Linked DNA regions of Homo sapiens: region 1 is linked to region 2. The links come from fine-mapping of genetic effects on gene expression. A gene starts in region 2. The other region holds a variant in brackets. All regions are shown on one strand. Distances are between the middles of the regions.

Region 1 (5,370 bases), 560 kb after region 2:
GAAGCAGATAATTTAGTTAAAGTGTCTCAGCCTAATAAGGGAACTGGGCAGGTGGGGATAACTAAAAAGGAGTGCTTAAAAGAGTATTGTCTAAGTTGGCACCAGAGTTGGGGAGTTTTAAGAGGTTTAGAAGCCTGGCCGTCAATACCCACAACAGTTATGGAGGCAAGGGAAACAGGCCCTTGAAAAGAAGGTAATGTGGAGTGGGTAGCCTCCGTATTGATTAAGAAGGGGACGGACTTACCCTCCACCGTGAGAGTTACCTAAAGCTCGGCATCCGTGATGGTCTACGGGGCTTCTGAGGCGATCAGGCAGCATCAGTCTTCAGCCGGTAAGTCAAGAAGGAGTCAGTCAGAGAACCTTGAGCCAGAGTTCCAGGGGCTCTGGGAGTGGCTGCCAGGTGAGTTGAACAGTCCGATTTTCAGTGGGGTCCCGCACAGATGGGACGCGGCTTAGGAGGAATCCCGGGCTGCGGGCATTCCTTGGCCCAGTGGCCAGATTTCCGGCGCGTGTAGCAAGCTCCTGGGGGAGGAGGTTCCGGAGGAACGCCTGGTTGCGTTTGGAAGTTCTTGTGTGCTGGAGATGTGACTGGGGATTGTCTCACAGTGGAGGCAAGGAATTGCAACTTTTTTCTGTTATTGCACACCTTGAAGGTGAGGTTAATTAAGTCCTGTTGTGGGGTTTGAGGGCCAGATTCCAATTTTTGGAGTTTTATTTAATGTTGGGAGCAGATTGGGTAATAAAATGTATATTGAGAATAAGACGGCCTTTTGACCTTTTAGGGTCTAGGGCTGTAAAGCGTCTCAGGGTCGCTGCCAAACAAGTCATGAACTGGGCTGGATTTTTATATTTGATGAAAAAGAGCCTAAACGCTATCTGATTTGGGATAAAGAAAAAGGAGCATTAACCTTGACTATGCCTTTAGCTCTCCAGCCACCTTTTTAAGAGTAAATTGCTGGGCAGGTGGGGGAGGGCTAGTCACGGAACGAAACTGTAAGCCGGATCAGGTGTGAGGGGAGGCGATAAAAAGATTATAGGGTGGAGGAGCAGAGGCTGAGGAAGAATTGGGACCTAGCTTGGCCTGGCAAGGAGCAGGCTGGGGAGGAAGGGAGAGGTCAGATGGGTCTGTAGAAAAGGAAGATTAGAAAGACTCAGCGACGCTTGGGGTTGGGACTGAGGGGACAGGCGGGAGATTTGGGACGAGTTGCACTGGGCACAGAGACTAGGAAGGGACTGATGTGTAAAAGAATGCCTGGACGTCAGGCACCTCAGACCATTTGCCCATTTTACGACAAGAATTATTTAGATCTTGTAGGATGGAAAAATTGAAAGTGCTGTTTTCCGGCTATTTGGAACTACTGTCGAGTTTGTATTGGGGTCAAGCGGTGTTGCAGAAGAAAATGAGGCGCTTAGATTTTAGGTCAGGTGAGAATTGAAGAGGTTTTAAGTTCTTAAGAATACAGGCTAAGGGAGAAGAAGGAGGAATGGAAGGTGGAAGCTTGCCCATAGCGAAGGAGGCAAGCCCAGAGAAAAGAGTAGAGACACGCAGAAGGGGTGGGGGTTTCTTGCCCTCCAGAAAAGCAGAGAAAGTGTTGGGGCACGGAAATAAGGGATTGGGGCACAGAGATAAGAGGTTGGGGCGCGGAAATAAGGGATTGGGGCGCAGAGATGAGGTTGGGGCGCGGAAATAAGCAATTGGGGCGCAGAGATAAGAGGTTGGGGCGCGGAAATAAGCGATTGTGGCACAGAGATAAGAGGTTGGGGCGTGGAAATAAGCGATTGGGGGGTTCTTGCCCCCTAGGAAAGCGGGACTAGCAGCTAAGGGTGAAGAAGAGGTTGAGGGGTACTTGCCCCTGCCCCAGGAAAGCAGAGAAGGGGTAGAGACAAGGAGAGAAGGGGTTGGGGTACTTGCCCCTTCCCCAGAAAAGCGAGACTTGCCGCCAAGGGTGAAGGACCAAGGCAGGCGTCCGTGCGTGGTCTGACACCTTTGAAACGTGGGTGAATAATCAGAGGCGTCCCTGCAATGATTAAACACCAAGGGAAGGCTACCTTCCCAGTCCGTGACCGCCGCCGGAGTTTTGGGTCCACGGATAAAACGTGTCTCCTTTGTCTCTCCCAGAAAATGAAAGGAATTGAAATTAAGAGAAGGGAGAGATTGAAGAGTGGAAAGGAGAAAGTGGTTGAGGGACAGTGAGAGACGTTGGAGAAGAGAGTAAGAAGAGACCGCTTACCTGATTTAAAATTGGTGATATGTTCCTTGGGCTGGTCGGTCTGAGGACCTGAGGTCGTAGGTGCATCTTTCTCACGGAGCAAAGAACAGGAGGACAGGGGATTGATCTCCCAAGGGAGGTCCCCTGATCTGAGTCATGGCACCAAATTTCATGCGCGTCCGTGTGAAGAGACCACCAAA[C/T]AGGCTTTGTGTGAGCAACATGGCTGTTTATTTCACCTGGGTGCAGGCCGGATGAGTCCGAAAAGAGAGTCAGCAAAGGGAGATAGGGGTGGGGCCATTTTATAGGATTTGGGAAGGTAATGGAAAATTACAGTCAAAGGGGGTTGTTCTCTGGTGGGCAGGGGCGGGGGTCACAAGGTGCTCAGTGGGGGAGCTTCTGAGCCAGGAGAAGGAAATTCACAGGGTTAATCACTCAGTTAAGGTGGGGCAGGAACAAATCACAATGGTGGAATGTCATCAGTTAAGGCAGGGCAGGGTCTTTTCACTTCTTTTGTGATTCTTCAGTTACTTCAGGCCATCTGGGCGTATACGTGCAAGTCACAGGGGATGCGATGGCTTGGCTTGGGCTCAGAGGCCTGACAGCCCCCAAGAAGGTGAGGTGACTACAGGGCTGTGAGCTGTAGGGGAGATGCCATTGTCAGCATCGGTCAGGGAGGTTGGAGTGAGCAGACCAGGACAACTCCACAGCTTAAGCAGCAAAGGTCTGGGACCAAGGAAAGGAAGCACACAGACTGTGCTTCACACAACAAACACAGCAGAGTTCCAAACAGCACAGCCTCAGCTCGAACCAGCCCAGGAGCACACAGTGTCCTTTCAGGTTCTGCCCCTTCCAGCCCCTGAGGGCAGACTAATCTCTTATGCTTTATTCAACTTTGTAAAACACTGGTGGCTCATTTTATGTGTTTTGAATTGGTGAAAGGATGCAGGTTAGTCACGGGTTAAGCTCATTAAGTCAGCCTTGCAGATACAAGTGGTGGCTTAATTATCCTGGAGCAGAGCTCATTGCCTGAGAGCACTTTAAAAGAGTCTCCGCTTTTCCTTTATCCTAGAGGGCAAGCAAGCTGGCTGGTTACTAACTATATTGTCAAAAGCTGTCCTAGACTCACTCCTAAGTTGCTGCTGATTAACTGTTCAGTCTAATATCTGGACTCTAATAGAAGGCAGCACTTTTGGTTTGGTAGGAGACAAATTGGAAGGCTGGGCATCAAGTAAGTTAAAGTCGTCCATTTATCAAACACAATGCATAAGAGACACAGAGGCTCCCGTTTCCATGGACGAGACACGCAGCTGAAAGAGATGAGCTGTGGACACTTAGACCTTGTATTGAGATGAATTGGCAGGCCAAGAGGAAAAGAAGAAAGTGGTTGGGAAATATTTTTTGGAACTGGTGAGGCATTCCTGCAAGGGAAATCAATCTAAAACTAAACATTCTTTCCACAATGTGTGTATGAAATACACTTACTTTATTTTATAGAGATGCGGTCTTGCTATATTGCCCAGGCTGGTCTCAAACCCCTGGCCTCAAGCAATCCTCCCACCTAGGCCTCCCAAAGTGCTGGGATTACAGGTGAGAGCCACTGCACCTGGCTACACGTGTTTTAATCCTTGAAAATCCTCAATCCCTTTCATTATTTTTATACTGATTGGTCTTCCCAACTGTAATTTGTTTCCAGACTCTCATATTCTAAGTGTCTGTTCTCCACGGTCTTTCACTGAGTCTAGAGCAGAAGCAAGGTCACCATTCTTTGGCACTCAGTTAACATACTATGTTTTGCTATGGCTTAGCAGAAACTAAGTGCTGTAACCTATTGGGAATCTCAGGAGGGACTTTTTTGTGTTTTTTTTTTTTTTTGAGACGGAGTCTCACTCTGTCACCCAGGCTGGAGTGCAGTGGCGCAACCTCGGCTCACTACAAGCTCCACCTCCCGGGTTCACGCCATTCTCCTGCCTCAGCCTCCCGAGTAGCTGGAACTACAGGCGCTTGCCACCACGCCCGGCTAATTTTTTGTATTTTTAGTAGAGACAGGGTTTCACCATGTTAGCCAGGAGGGTCTTGATCTCCTGACCTCGTGATCCGCCCATCTCGGCCTTCCAAAGTGCTGGGATTACAGGTGTGAGCCACCGCGCCCGGCCAGGAGTGACATTTAAGCTAGTCAGTTTAAATCAAATCTTTGTTCTATGTGACTTACCCAGTACTTCCCAATAATCTTATCCACTCCACACCTTCTACAGTCAACTGAAGACTACCCAAAGGAGCACTGCTCATGCATATGGCACAGCAGAGCACCGGGACCTGCCCAGCTCCTCTCTGAAGCTCTGTAATCAGGCAGCTACCAAGGAAGAGTCAGACTTCAACAGTTTTTACACAAGGAATCTCAAAATCTTAAGTTGGAAGGACACCTTCCATGATTTGATTCCCAGCCACATAAAACCTGTTATCTTTCATTTATAAATGGGGGGAATGGGGCAGAGAAAGCTCCTGTTAATAAAAGAGGAGGCCACGCGCAGCGGCTCATGCCTGTAACCTCAGCACTTTGGGAGGCTGAGGTGGGCAGATCACGAGGTCAAGAGATCAAGACCATCCTGGCCAACATGGTGAAACCTCATCTCTACTAAAAATACAAAAATTAGCTGGGCATGGTGGCGGGCACCTGTAGTCCCAGCTACTCAGGAGGCTGAAGCAGGAGAATCGCTGGAACCCAGGAGGCAGAGGTCGCAGTGAGTCGAGATCGCACCACGGCACTCCAGCCTGGCGACAGAGCAAGACTCCATCTCAAAAAAAAAAAAAAAGTTGGGGGGAATAAGGGGCTACAGAAAGGCATAGGACAAATCAGTGATGTTGAACCACATCTTACTAAGATGCTTTGCTTGCTGTGGCACTCTAAACTCTCTTGCTTGCTTCCATGACAATACATCCAGGTGATCTCAGAAAATTGTGCAGTGAATAGGCTACTGTGAAACTACGACTTTCCTCTCATTATACACCAGCAATACATACAGCTCAACAGTCTCAGTTTAATGACAAGAATGTAGGATTTCACAAGCTTCTAACCATAAATTCAGCTTTTCAAGAGCAAATGCTTTGAGGATCGTCTTAAGAATTATAAAAAAACTATTGTGAGAGATCTGCAAATTTAGGT
Region 2 (5,370 bases):
CTGCAATCTCGACAATCCACTGCAATCCAGCCTGGGCGACAGAGCGAGACTCCGTCTCAGAAAAAAAAAAAAAAAAAGTTGTAGTTAATTACCAGCATTTAAAAAAACCAGAGATTTAACATAATCTGAATTTCTGGCCTCTTAATAAAAATCAGGGTCTGGTGTGGTGGCTCACGCCTATAATCCCAGCACTTTGGGAGGCCAAGGTGGGCAGATCACGAGGTTAGAAGTTCGAGACCAGTCTGGCCAACATGGTGAAACCCTGTCTCTACTAAAAATACACAAATTAGCCAGACGTGGTGGTGGGCGCCTGTAATTCCAGCTGCTTGGGAGGCAGGAGAATTGCTTGAACCAGGGAGGCGGAGGTTGCGGTGAGCTGAGATCGCACCACTGCACTCTAGCCTGGGTGACAGAGCAGGACTCAGTCTCGATAAAAAACAAACAAACAAAAAACAGAACATCTGGCAACTCTGGGTGGGTCTCCATTCACATATGGCAAAAATCAGTTGGAGCTGAGCAGTGACTGTCACCTTAGGCAGGTGTGCATACCTCAGTCTGTCACAAGCCCCATCCCTCCTTTCTATTATACCCTGCCAACCTCACTTAGTACATGACTACCCGGCCACGTCGGTATTAAAGTTTGTGATCCTTCAGCTAGTCTTATGCCCTCTTAGTTACTGAGGTTAGAGTCACTCCCTCTTAGTTACTGAGATCATGTACTAACGCTCATGCAGTAAGTGGAAGATGCTGGGTAAGAACCTTCCCGATCTTGGAAATAGTACCATTACTCCACAGTGGCTCAAGCTAAACACCTAGGAGATTTTCTTCTTTCATCCCTTTACGTCAACCCCTGTCATAGTCTATTTTGTGCCAATATAACAGAATATCACAGACTGGGTAATTTATAAGGAACAACAATTTATTTAGCTCATGGCTCTGGAGGCTGGGAAGTCCAAGATTGAGGGGCTGCATCTGGTAAGGGCCTTCATGCTGAGTCACCCCATGGCACAAGGCAGAACAAGAGAGCAGCAGAGGGGTGGGGAGAGGGCCACTCCTGGCATTAATGGAATCACCTCTTAAAGGTCCCACCTCTCAACACTGTTGCATTGGGGATTAAGTTTCCAAGATATGAACTTTGGGGAACATATTTAAACCATAGCATCCCCTAAATCCAGCCTAATCCATCATCAAGCCTTCCTGTGCTACTTTTGACACACATTGCAGGAGGTCCACCTTTTCCGTATCTTGCTGTCACCACCCTGGTCTTCATCACCATAATCTCTTGCCTGAATTGTTCCCTCCAGATTGATATGACAAAGCCCTGACCCTCACGGTGGCCTACAAGGTTCTGGGTGATGGTGATTCCACACTAGTCTACCTCTCTGGCTGTAACCCACTCTCCCCTTGCTCACCTCACTCAGCCACCCTGGGGGCCAGTTCCAGCTTCAGAACCATGCATCGGCCGACCCCTCTGTCAGCAATGCTCTTGCTTCAGCCCTGGAATCGTTTTTGTCCTCCAAGTATCCAATATCACAAGCGGCCCGGAGACCACCCTAGGTATAGCAGTCCTAGACCCCTTTCTTTTTCTTTTCTTTTTTTTGGAGACGGCATCTAGCTCTGTTGCCCAGGCTGGAGTGCAGTGGCTCTAACTCGGCTTACTGTAACTTCCACCTCCCGGGTCCAAGCAATTCTGCCTCAGCCTCCCGAGTAGCTAGGACTACAGGTGAGGGCCACCATGCCCAGCTAATTTTTGTATTTTTAGTAGAGACGGGGTTTTATCATCTTGGCCAGGCTGGTCTTGAACTCCCGACCTCGTGATTCACCTGCCTCGGCCTCCCAAAGTGCTGGGATTACAGGCGTGAGCCACAGGCACCCAGCCGACATTCTCTTGTTTTTTTCGTTTGTTGTATATAACCTACCCCCACCTCCACCCCATGCAAAGTCCACGAGGACGATAGACTTTGTCTTGTTCCCTGTTGCATCCTGGCCCTAGGGCCTAGCCCACAACCTGGGACATTTCCTGACAAGGGGCCCTGGTTTCTCTGAGGTGCCACCTGAGGTCCGGGAGGTCAGCTGACTTTCCCAAAGGTGGATTCCAAGGACACTGCATTCTTCGCACTCCCCGAGGGGCGTCTAGACACTCCTGGGACCCAGAATTATTAGCTAACTGGGCTCCTGAGTCCGGTGAGAGCTCAGAGTCTAGAAGCAACTTTCCCTGCCTGGAGAGGTGAACCCAGCAAGGCGTTGGGGAGAGGCGTGGGCGAGGGAGTGGGCGCGGGTGGGCGGGGCCGTCCGGGGGCCTCGTTGCCCGAGCCAATGGGGCGCCGCGGCGCGGGGAGGCCGGGCCGCCGGGCGGGGGCGCTCGCGCGCGTTGAGGGGCAGAGGCTGAGCTCCCGGGACCCGGAGCGGATCGACTGGCGGGCGCCGCGCCGAGGCACCACCGGGCGCCGAGTTCCTGGCGGCTCGCACGGTAAGCGGCGCGGCGCCGCAAAGTAGACTTTGTGGGGTTTCTGACAGCCGGGAGACCCCACCTCGAGCGGGGGCTGCTGGTGCGTTCTCGCGTCGGGCTGCGTCCCCTGGAGCTCCGGCTCTGTGTCCGCGGGATGCGGGCGCACGGAGGGGCAGGGAGGGAGGCAAGGAGCCGCGCACCACGGTGTCTCCCCAGGCTGCCGCTGCCGGGGCCCTGGGCCGGTCCCTGGGACAGACAGATCGGCGTGCGGGGGCCGTCTGCCGGGCCCGGGAGCCGGGGGCGCGCAAGACTGTGGATCCTAAGACTGCCTCCACCCAGCGCCCGGCCCGGGGAAGAGCTTGCGGGAAACCAGGAACCGCAGCGGCCGGACCTCTGCTCTGCGCCGGCTCCTAGGACCTGCCTTAGGTCCCCAGACCCCTCATGACCTGTTGCCTTGGGTTTGGGAGGTCAGGTTTGTCATGCCATTTCCGATTTCCAGTCATCCTGGGGGCAGGATGAAATTTCAGAGTGGTTTCCTGGCCAAGCTAGAAGCAGAGAATAGCTATGGATACAGCACCTCGTGTATCTATCCAGCACTTACTTGGCTTTTTCTGAGTGCCAGGAACTGTGCCAAGCCCTAGCAGCATGAAGAATGGCCTTTGGGGAGCTTCTGGGGCTAAGAGGGACAGTAGGAGGAGCAATTGCAGTGCAGGGTAGTGCGGAAGACTCGAGATGGAGAAGAGGACGGTGAGGAAGCCAGGAAGGTTTCAGAGAGGAGGTGAGCATTGACTGGAAGTCGGAGGTTTTGCCAGGCTGAAAAGTGTGTTGGGACTGTGAGTTGATAGGGAGCAGGAATTCCAGGTGGGTTTTCTTGTGTAAAGGTAAAGAAACTGAAAAGGTCCGGTGTCCTGACCTAGCACATCAGATAATTCTACAGCAGATAATGGAGTAGGACCGGGTCTTGCTGTAGGTAGGAAATGAGCTCTCGACATGGCAGGAAGCTAAAACCTGCACAGACCTTAAAGTGCAGCCTTAGAATATTTAGAATTTTATCCTGGAATGAAGGAGGGCCGTGGAAGAATTCTGATCAGTGATCAGGTCCCTCTGGCAGCTCTGGGGACAATGGATGGAGGCCGGAGCATCAGAAAGCTGGTAAGTTGTAGTTGTTTTCTGGTCCTTGGCTGCAAATACTCTTCCCTGCTTAAGGGAGCCCCCTCTGCCCGGGAGCCCTGCTCCCTGGCTTCTGGACATGGATTCAGGCAAAGAGATGCTGCCCGTGTAATGCTTGCTTCTGCAGCCTGCACATCATTTTGATATTGTTTCTGGAGCCTGTGACCTCAGTCTTGTCATCAGGCCTCTGAAGGGTGCCTCTGCTCTTCTTTTCTCATCTTCAAGCCCTCTGTGTGCCCTTCCCCTCTGCCTGGGCTCCCCTTTCTGTTTCACAGAGATCCAGTCTCAGCCATTGGAGGCAAGGCTGTGTGTAGATTGGTGTAGTAGAAAGAACAAGGGCTCGCTGGGAAATCAGACCAGAAAGTCACTTTAGCCATAGGCTTTGGGGACATTAGCAACCTTCATGAACCTTCTTTTTCTGATTTAAAAGGAAATCATTGTACTCACCTGTCATGGTTTGGGTTCCCTGGAAAAAGACTTGGCGCTTCTGAGATTTTTGTGCAGATAAGGGAAGCAGAACTGGGCAGAGGGAGATGTTGATCTATGGTGCAGTGCAAGAGAGGTCTCAATCCCTCCCATGAGACAAAGAGACGAGGCCTTTGAAGCTTAATGTTGATCAGCCAGTGGGTGCAGGCTGGTCCTAGGGAGGGAGCTAGGATGTCCCTTCAGCAGGACAGTTCCTGACTAGGGACTCACCTGGGAGCTGGGGTAACCAACACTCTGGCAGCTGGACATGGGGAAGTCATGAGTGTCTTGGTCTTGGAGGGGGAGTTGAGCATTTCCCCACGGTATCCACTACACTACCTCACAAATGAAGTAGTGCTTTGTACTGTGCCTGGTGCATAGTAGATATCTTAAAAGTATTCATTTCTCTCACCTTTAAGTTTCATGACTGCACCTGAAAATGAGTTTTGGAATTCGAGTTGAGTCAGCTTTTGTGAGGAGCTTTTAATAATAATAGCCACGAAGACTACTGCTTCCCTTTTTTGAGTGTCTATTATGTATATACATTCTCTTCTAGTTGTCCAATAATACTCCAACTTAGGTACTTTTATTCTCATTTTATAGTAAACCCAGTCTCTTCCAAAACCCAACCAAGTTGATGTTCTTTTGCCACAAAATAATAATTATAATAATAACAATCACTCACAACTCTATGATTTGTTACACTTTCCAAAGTGCTTTCATTGGTGGATTGATTGATTAATCATTCATTCATCCACTAATTAATCAATCAATGTGTATTGAGTGTCTCTTAAGGAGTAGGCGCTATCCTAGGTGATGGGGAGAAAGCTCAGTCTATTAGAGGAGATAGACATTAAATGCTTGGATTCATCAAAAGCAAGTGTTGAGGGGTGGAACATTGCATTGCATAGCCAGTATGTGATAGAGAATAACAGGCTCTTTGTCCAATTGACTCCTTGCCTTCAGTTTCAATATAACCTTCTTGGAAAGGCCTTCTGTACTCCCTCCCTTTTATTCTCCCTTCGTAACAGTCATTTATCTATTTTATTTACTTTCCTATTGTTGGTCCTCCCCTTTAGACTGCAGACTCCAGGGGATCATACATTGCTTCATCCCAAGAGCCTACCACAGGGTTTAGCACATATTTCTTAAATGAGTGAAATGAATGAAGGGTGGATGTGCTTAACAGTGTAGTCAGGGAAGGTCTCCCAAAGTAGTGATATTTACACTGAGATCTGGGGAATGAGAAAGATCCGGCAACGCCAAGATCAAGAGGCAGAGAGAAC

Direction of the effects. Positions count from the first base shown, and alleles are read on the strand shown. Sizes are in standard deviations (SD) of each study's normalised expression.
With allele C in place of T in region 1, the expression in cerebellar hemisphere of the gene that starts at base 2,381 in region 2 is lower (moderate effect, 0.67 SD a copy in GTEx).

The links.
Region 1: its variant is fine-mapped to the expression of SYN3 in cerebellar hemisphere (GTEx, PIP 0.93).

Annotation. Positions count from the first base shown.
Region 1 is chr22:32,500,195-32,505,564 of GRCh38, reverse strand. No RefSeq gene overlaps it. Among named protein-coding and RNA genes, the nearest start is that of FBXO7, 28 kb to the right of the region's middle. RefSeq lists enhancers at 2,659-3,345, 3,346-4,032. The variant C/T (reference allele first, on the strand shown) is at 2,411.
Region 2 is chr22:33,055,392-33,060,761 of GRCh38, reverse strand. SYN3 (synapsin III) reads left to right here and starts at 2,381. Exons shown (of 14, transcript NM_003490.4): 1 at 2,381-2,470.